Linked DNA regions of Homo sapiens. The protein of the gene in region 1 purifies or fractionates together with the protein of each later gene. This does not show direct contact. Each region holds a gene or a part of one and is shown on either strand. Other genes may lie near its edges.

Region 1 (3,500 bases):
TGATTCTGCGGAGAGTTTTGTGTCTTCTGGTACAGCTAGGCCTTTGGCTTGTCTCCTCCACTTAGCAGCCCTTTCATGTGATTACACAACAAAAGTTGAGAGAGTGAAGCCTGTGTGCCAGCATAGGAATTAGGTGCTGGAGATCACACTGAAGGCACATGGTTCCTGCCTTCCCTGATGCCATCTGTGCCATCTGTGTTACTGCAGCCATGGTGGAGTCTTTTCAGTAGCAAACTCTAGAACTTTTCTGCCTGGAGAGTCCACATTCATTGCTCTTAAAATTTGAGAGCAGCCTCTCTTTCTAGATGGTAGACTTGAGTTCTCTACAGGATAGCCTTTTAGACTAAGAGAACCAGATCTTTCTTGACCCTTCATATTTTGAAAGCTGCTAGTCCTACTCTTAAGTCTCATTCTCATTTTCCCATTTTGGAGTTCCAGCTCTGTCCCTCACAAGCAGTGTAAGTGTCAGCAAGTGAGTTAACATCTTTGGGCCTTAGTTTATTTGTGAAATAGGGATGACTATGATTCCCACCTCATGAGTTAGGAGGATTAAATGAGATCATTCCTATTAGCACAGTATCTGCCACGTAGTAAACAATAAATGGAATAAAACGATTGCATTTTCCACATGTCTTGGAGAGCACTGGAGGCCAGCTCCTCTTCACCCTTTGCCCAGACTTGAGCATCTCAGAGAGAGGAGCCACCTTTCATTGTATTCATCTCTGTGTCTACAGCCAGCCCCTGCCTGGTGAATAGTAGATGCTTAATAGTATTGATTTATGACCTGAAGATGGTGATGGTGATGATGATGTAACCTGTCTGCCAGGATTAAGGAGGGTAAAATAAGAAAATGTATGTGAAACTACACTTTTGTGAATGGAAAAACAACACTGTGTACGTCCCTCCACTAAGGTATTTATCACAGTGTACTGTTCTTTGTTTGCCTATCTTTTCCACTCATAGTCCATGTGCTTCTCCAAAGTGGAGACTACATCTTATCTCTAGTCCTGCTCCAGCCCCTGTCTGATAGCCTACACAAAGTAGGCACTCAGGTAGTTTAATTGAATGCAAATGGCATACAAAGGCAAAGAATTGTAAAGCTATTATTAGGATAGGGAAAGAGGGCTGGTAAATACGACTGGTCCTTCCTTCCTTCCTGGTGCTACTTTTACACAAAACTGTTTCTGAAATAAACCTCTTCCTAGGGGAATGATGAAATTGGCTGAGAGAAAAGGTCAGGGTCAGGAATAACAGTTTCATTATCTGAGCAACTGGACATAGAGGCTGGCACTTGGGCACATTGTCACAAATCTTTGTGTTGGGATTAATGCCACTAACCTGTAGTGTTGGGGTTCCATCTCTGATCATTATCAGCTAAAAATCTTCAAAATGTTTGTCATGCTTCAGGTGCCCTGGCTGCAGAGTTGTGCCAACTTGGTGCAGATTGGGGCACCTCTCCCACTACTGGGCTGTTTGGGCCAGTATTTTGAGGTTCTGGGAAGTATGGAAGTACTGGCTGGGCAATATGGGATGGTAAGAAGTACCTCAGTGAGGTCCTTGCTGCTCTAATTTCTCAGAGAGTCTTTTCTCAGAAGCTTCTCTTTTGCATCCTCAGTAGCTCAAGTGAATATGCCAGTGTGTAGGCTCATTGTTAATAACAGCTCCTCATGTTGTGGAGGAAGGGCCCCTGCAAAGTCACGTTTTGAGACTGGTGCTTGAAACCACCTCTTCTTGGTCTTGGGGAGAAGGCTTGGCTGATGAGCTAGCATTATCAGAGATATGTTTATAATAGGCCCAATTTGATGTGTCCTGAGCCTTGGGTGTAGGCACCCTGGGAATTTCAGGGGCCTACCCCCCTCCTTTTTTTTTTTTTTGCGTGGATCCGAGTCTGGCTTGTTCTTCCTCTCTGGGAGCATGGCACTGAGTTTCAGCACGTAGTTGGCCCCATTTCCCTATGGGTGAGGAAGCTAACATCAGGAAAGTTTGAATATTGAGCTACAGTATTTGCTGTTATTTGCTGCAATGCGGAAACCCAAAGGCCAAGTTTCCAGAGAGTCTGCTGGGGATGTTGACTTGGTGCTGGTCAGAGTGGAAGCTGAAGCACATACTATTTTATAATAAATACTAATGAAATCCTAGATCTATAATAGCATTTCGGATATCTAAAACAAACCATGTGCTTGTAAAAAAGTGGAAAGAGATCAACTTTAAGCCATAAATTCTTGGTAATAGAGGGTTTTTTTCTATTAATGTTTGATAGATATTTTTATTTCCAGAGGAATGTCAACTCCTAATTTCATAATGTATCATGGGCTTAAGAAAATTGAATTTAATAAAAAGCCAAAGATGAATGGCATCCTTAAAGGTCCCAACACTTGTCTTTATTAGCAGGACAAACTGTAGGTCTCCAAACACTGCTGCTCTCCAAATGAAAGTTTAAATGAAAAGTACAGTTGTGTCACAGGTTAAATTTCATTGTGGGCCCAGCTAACATTGTTAGTGAGGAGCTGGCTGTATTTGTTTCCTTAGACACCAGGGCAGCCATACTCACCAGGCTATAGAGCTCTTTCTGTTGAGGAAGTGTTTCTTCTACTTAGGGGAAGAGGAAGGACACATCGGAAAAATCAGGAGTCAGATGAGCCTGATTCATGGGCAACACCTCAGAGTTGGCTCTTGGAATCCTGGATACCTGATTTTGCAGGGGGACCAATGTGTATTTTTTTGGTGTGTGTTCGATTTTGTTATTCAGTTCCAAACCCCCATTTACTCTGTATGTAATGCTTCTTGGGGAACAGAAGGTCCAGGGAATTGGGAAATGAGTGTCCCCCTCTCTTCACCTTGGAAGGAGAGGTATTACCTGGTCTAAGCAGCAGTCTGGGCCTCCCTTCTCTCCCCTCTGCCTCAGCCTTGCAGCCATTTTGCCCTTTCTATCTCTGGGAATAAGCTCCTGTCAGCTTCCTCATCTTTGGAGATCAGCCCACGGAGACAAGGCAACCACAATCTTTGAATCTCTCTGGCATGAAGTCTGACTGACTTGATTTGGTTTTCGGTCCTGATGTGTTGGATTGAAATAGATGCTTTAAAAACAAGCCCAATATTAGTGGGTATGTTTTGCCGGGAGGATACCTGGCTTTCCTGGGACATCAAGGAGATTGACCATTTCTCCTTGTGTTTTCCCACCCATCAATTTCCTAAGTGCAGTCAGGTGTCATCCGTTTCGTGTTGCTTCTCCAGGCTGTCTCTGGAGAGAACCACTTTACCTTGATTTTAATGATACTGGAAAGGTCTTCTCCAGAATGAAGGACCTGGGGAAGGGGTGCTGCTGGAGCTGACTATTAGGGTCACTGAATAGGCAGAGCCCCCTTCCTTTCTCTCTGCAGTGGAGGCCCTTTCCACATGCTAATTTTACTCAGAGAATTTTGCTTTTATTTATTTTTTTTATTATTTCCTATTTGTCTCTTCCAGATGTTTTCAGGGCAGTTTTTTTTTGTGTTGTAAAC
Region 2 (3,500 bases), on another chromosome or scaffold:
TTTCAAAGTTCATTTACTAAGGTCTAGTCTCACATCTTCCCTAATCTACTTTTTACTAATTAAGAATTTTGCTGCCATGCCAACAATACATTTGCTTAAAGAAAACAACCTTACAACTTTGAAATGTTAGTGTCATTTTAGCCACAAAACTTTATTTACAAAGTTTTTTAGAATATACTTGCTATCCACCCACTATTCCAAGAGTAAAATGATGTCAAGTAGATTACACAAGAGCATAAAACAGAGAAAACAAGTCTACAATATATACAGTGCCATAAGTGGTTGCTATTTTTACAGTTTTCTTTTAAAGATAATCTACTGAATTTTTTTTGCTGATAACACTTCAGAGTGATGTTGTCTTCAAATGTAGATTTCCACAGGGATTCAAGAGTATAACAGTCCAATATATTTTATAGGTGGTATCTGACATTACGAATAACTGCAAATCATTTTTTTCCCCTTTTTTTTTCAAAAGTCTTGGAGGATGAAGAATTATGACTTTCACCACCACTATAGTGTTCATATAAAGTCTGAAATTAAAAAACACAAATCTGTTTTGCAATTTTTTAGTTAAATGTACTGTCACATCAGTAGATGTATTTTGATGTATTCTAAATATAATACATTTATTTCTCTCTTGTTCTTACAGTTGGGAAATTATTTTATAAACTATTAGAGATAATAAAGAATTTTAAACACGAAGCTTGGCCTTAAGCATTACCTATCATGAGATATAACTCAATCTTTCTATGAGAGAAATATAACAGAGCTACTAATAAACATACATATGAGCCTTCAAGGCCTTCTTTATCTCTTTACTTTTTCTTAAATAAAGCCAGTCTTAGGTAAATTCCTATACAAAATATATTTATTAGGAAACTTTATATTCTCAGATGATAATAAGCTAATAAATAGAAGACATTACAAATTATATAAATATAATAATTAGATATATATTAAAATCCATGTATTTAAAAATGATTTAAGACTCAGCTAACATCTAACTTATGAAGATGGCAGACATCTTTGCCCTCAAGGAACATACAACTTCAGTTATAAAAATAATCCACCTCAACTATAGCTATAAGAGGCTTTGAATAATATATTAGTATAAACTTAAAACATGGAGATACAAAATACAGAGCAATTACAAAACAAATTTGGTCCACTTTTAATTACTAAATCCATTGATTTAGCCATTAGCATTTGAGAAAATTTAAGAAAACAGGTACCTCATATCATATAAATGCAAATATAGTGAATATATAGTAAATTCCTTCAAAAAATGTATTCAAGTTCTTGGCAACTTAGATGGATTTTATATGTATCCAGAGAGCTACGAGTATTGATAGTTTAGGTTCCCATAATTTTATGATAATGTTGTAACTGAAATACATAATTAGTAACTGCTTGTTGGCTAAATCAGTTGGTCAATAAGCATTCACAGGGTTCTAGAAATAACTAGGTGTTTGAAAAATCATGGTATAGATATAAATGGACATTGGGAAGCTAAAAAGCTTGAGACTTGTGCTTTGAGAATTGTGTTGATTGCTGTGTACAGCTTCAAAAAAGCCATTACATGTAATGTCTCTAAGGAAAAAACTGGCTAAAAGGAATGAATTCAAAAGCTGTATTAATAATGGTGCTGAATTAAAAGACACACTATATTCCTATATTAAATGTATTCCAGTTGAGACGTGACAGCAATCTTTTGAATGCACCTTATGTGATGATCTACTTTGAACTGTACTGTATGCAGAAGAAGAATATAAATCAAGTAAATCGATATTTGTCAAAATGCACATGTTAAGTATCTAAATGTAGAAACATGTTTCATAACTGATCTGATGATTGGACCAACTTTTCTTCAGACTACCTGTTTCCTTAAGTGTCGAATTCACTATATAAAACAGTAAAAATTAATGTAAAGAATAGACATACTTACTTTAGCAGCTTTCAAAATGGAGTTAGGAGAATTCAGACCAACAAGTTGGCCCAGAACATATTTCATTTCTTCAGTGGTTCCCTTGGCCATTTGGTTAACTATAAAATAAATCAATAATACACTAGTACCAGTAAGAAAAATATAAGTCCATTGTAAATACACATTTTGTTTAATAGCACAAAGTGATATTCTTATAATTTATCACTGATTATAACCCGTTATCTGGAATAAGTAAAAATAAATACCAGAAGTAAAGAAAAAAAAGTTTATTTACTTTACTATTTATAATAATGGAACTTCCTTAAGGAAAAAGGCAGGCTGACAAAGGGTAGCCAATTTAGATTCTGTCTTTGTTATATTAATAGGTAACAGACTGTTTATACTACCAATCTAGTAATAAACAAATTTTTAAAGAAGTAGTACCTGGATGAGTTTGAATTTGAACATATGGATGAGCCAGGAGCTCAGGAATGGATATCCTCTGTTTTGGGTCCCTTTTTAAACAACACTATTAAAACAAAGATATTTTAAAAGAAAAACAAAGCAGGTTTTCATATATGATATTGATAAAGTATTTTTCCAGATTACATTATATTATAAAAGTTACTTTTTAGATATCCCACTAAAGTATTATGACAAGATTATTTCTCCCAAGGCACTTTTGCAAAATCCCCAAGTATTTACAAGCTTTAAAACATCTTCAAAGTAAAAAAACTAATTCAGTTAGCAATTCTTTTGAATAGAACAGTTATATCTAAGCCAGTTACATAATTCCAATTATTTCAACTATTTCTTTTAAGTAAATAATTAGTTACATGAAATTAATATTACCTTTAACACATCTTGAAGATCTTTCTCTGGAATATCGGGAAATTCAATTTCATGATTAGGATCAATTATGGCATGTAATTTAGAAATCTGATTAATTATCTGCTGAAATGGTGTTTTCCCGTAAGTCATATAGTACAAAATACATCCTAAGGACCAAACATCACTTTTGGGGCTTATCTAAGAAAAAAACAAACAAACACAAAAAAGTTGCTGTTATTTTCATATAAAATGAAAAAACATATATATTAAATATACATATTTAAAATCATAATTAAATCTCAATGAATGTGTACTACATTATGTTAACATGACAAAACATCTTTTTCTAGTTTTCATTTCAGTTGGTTATTCCATCAGAAGATATGAGCTTTACTTTAAATCTTTCTATAACCTCATAATTAAAATATTGCAATTAAGACAAAATATTAAATTCTTCCCAACTTGTGAAAATATAAAATTAAAAAATGTAAGTTTTAAGTTTGTTTTCCCCAGAATTACTGGATTATAATAAATTTTTATATAAGTACAAAGTATGTATACAGTTTCAAAGGTTGCTTAAATTATGCAACCCTTCAGACAAGACCATTGGAAATAATAAATAAGCAATACAACTTTAAACCCAAGCACATATACTATAGAACTATGCGGAGCTTGTGTCCAAAATCCTCAAGTATTTACAAGCTTTAAAACATCTTCAAAGTAAAAAACTAATTCAGTTAGCAAT

Evidence for each region.
Region 2: the proteins of ERI3 (region 1) and TTK fractionate together in Homo sapiens (co-fractionation; one large-scale study listed by BioGRID). This does not show direct contact.

Annotation. Positions count from the first base shown.
Region 1 is NC_000001.11:44,320,758-44,324,257, reverse strand, and holds part of ERI3 (ERI1 exoribonuclease 3), read left to right. Parts: intron 1-3,500.
Region 2 is NC_000006.12:80,039,149-80,042,648, reverse strand, and holds the end of TTK (dual specificity protein kinase TTK), read right to left. Parts: intron 2,954-3,500; coding exon 2,777-2,953; intron 2,454-2,776; coding exon 2,369-2,453; intron 2,044-2,368; coding exon 1,946-2,043; intron 531-1,945; coding exon 447-530; 3' UTR 122-446; downstream 1-121.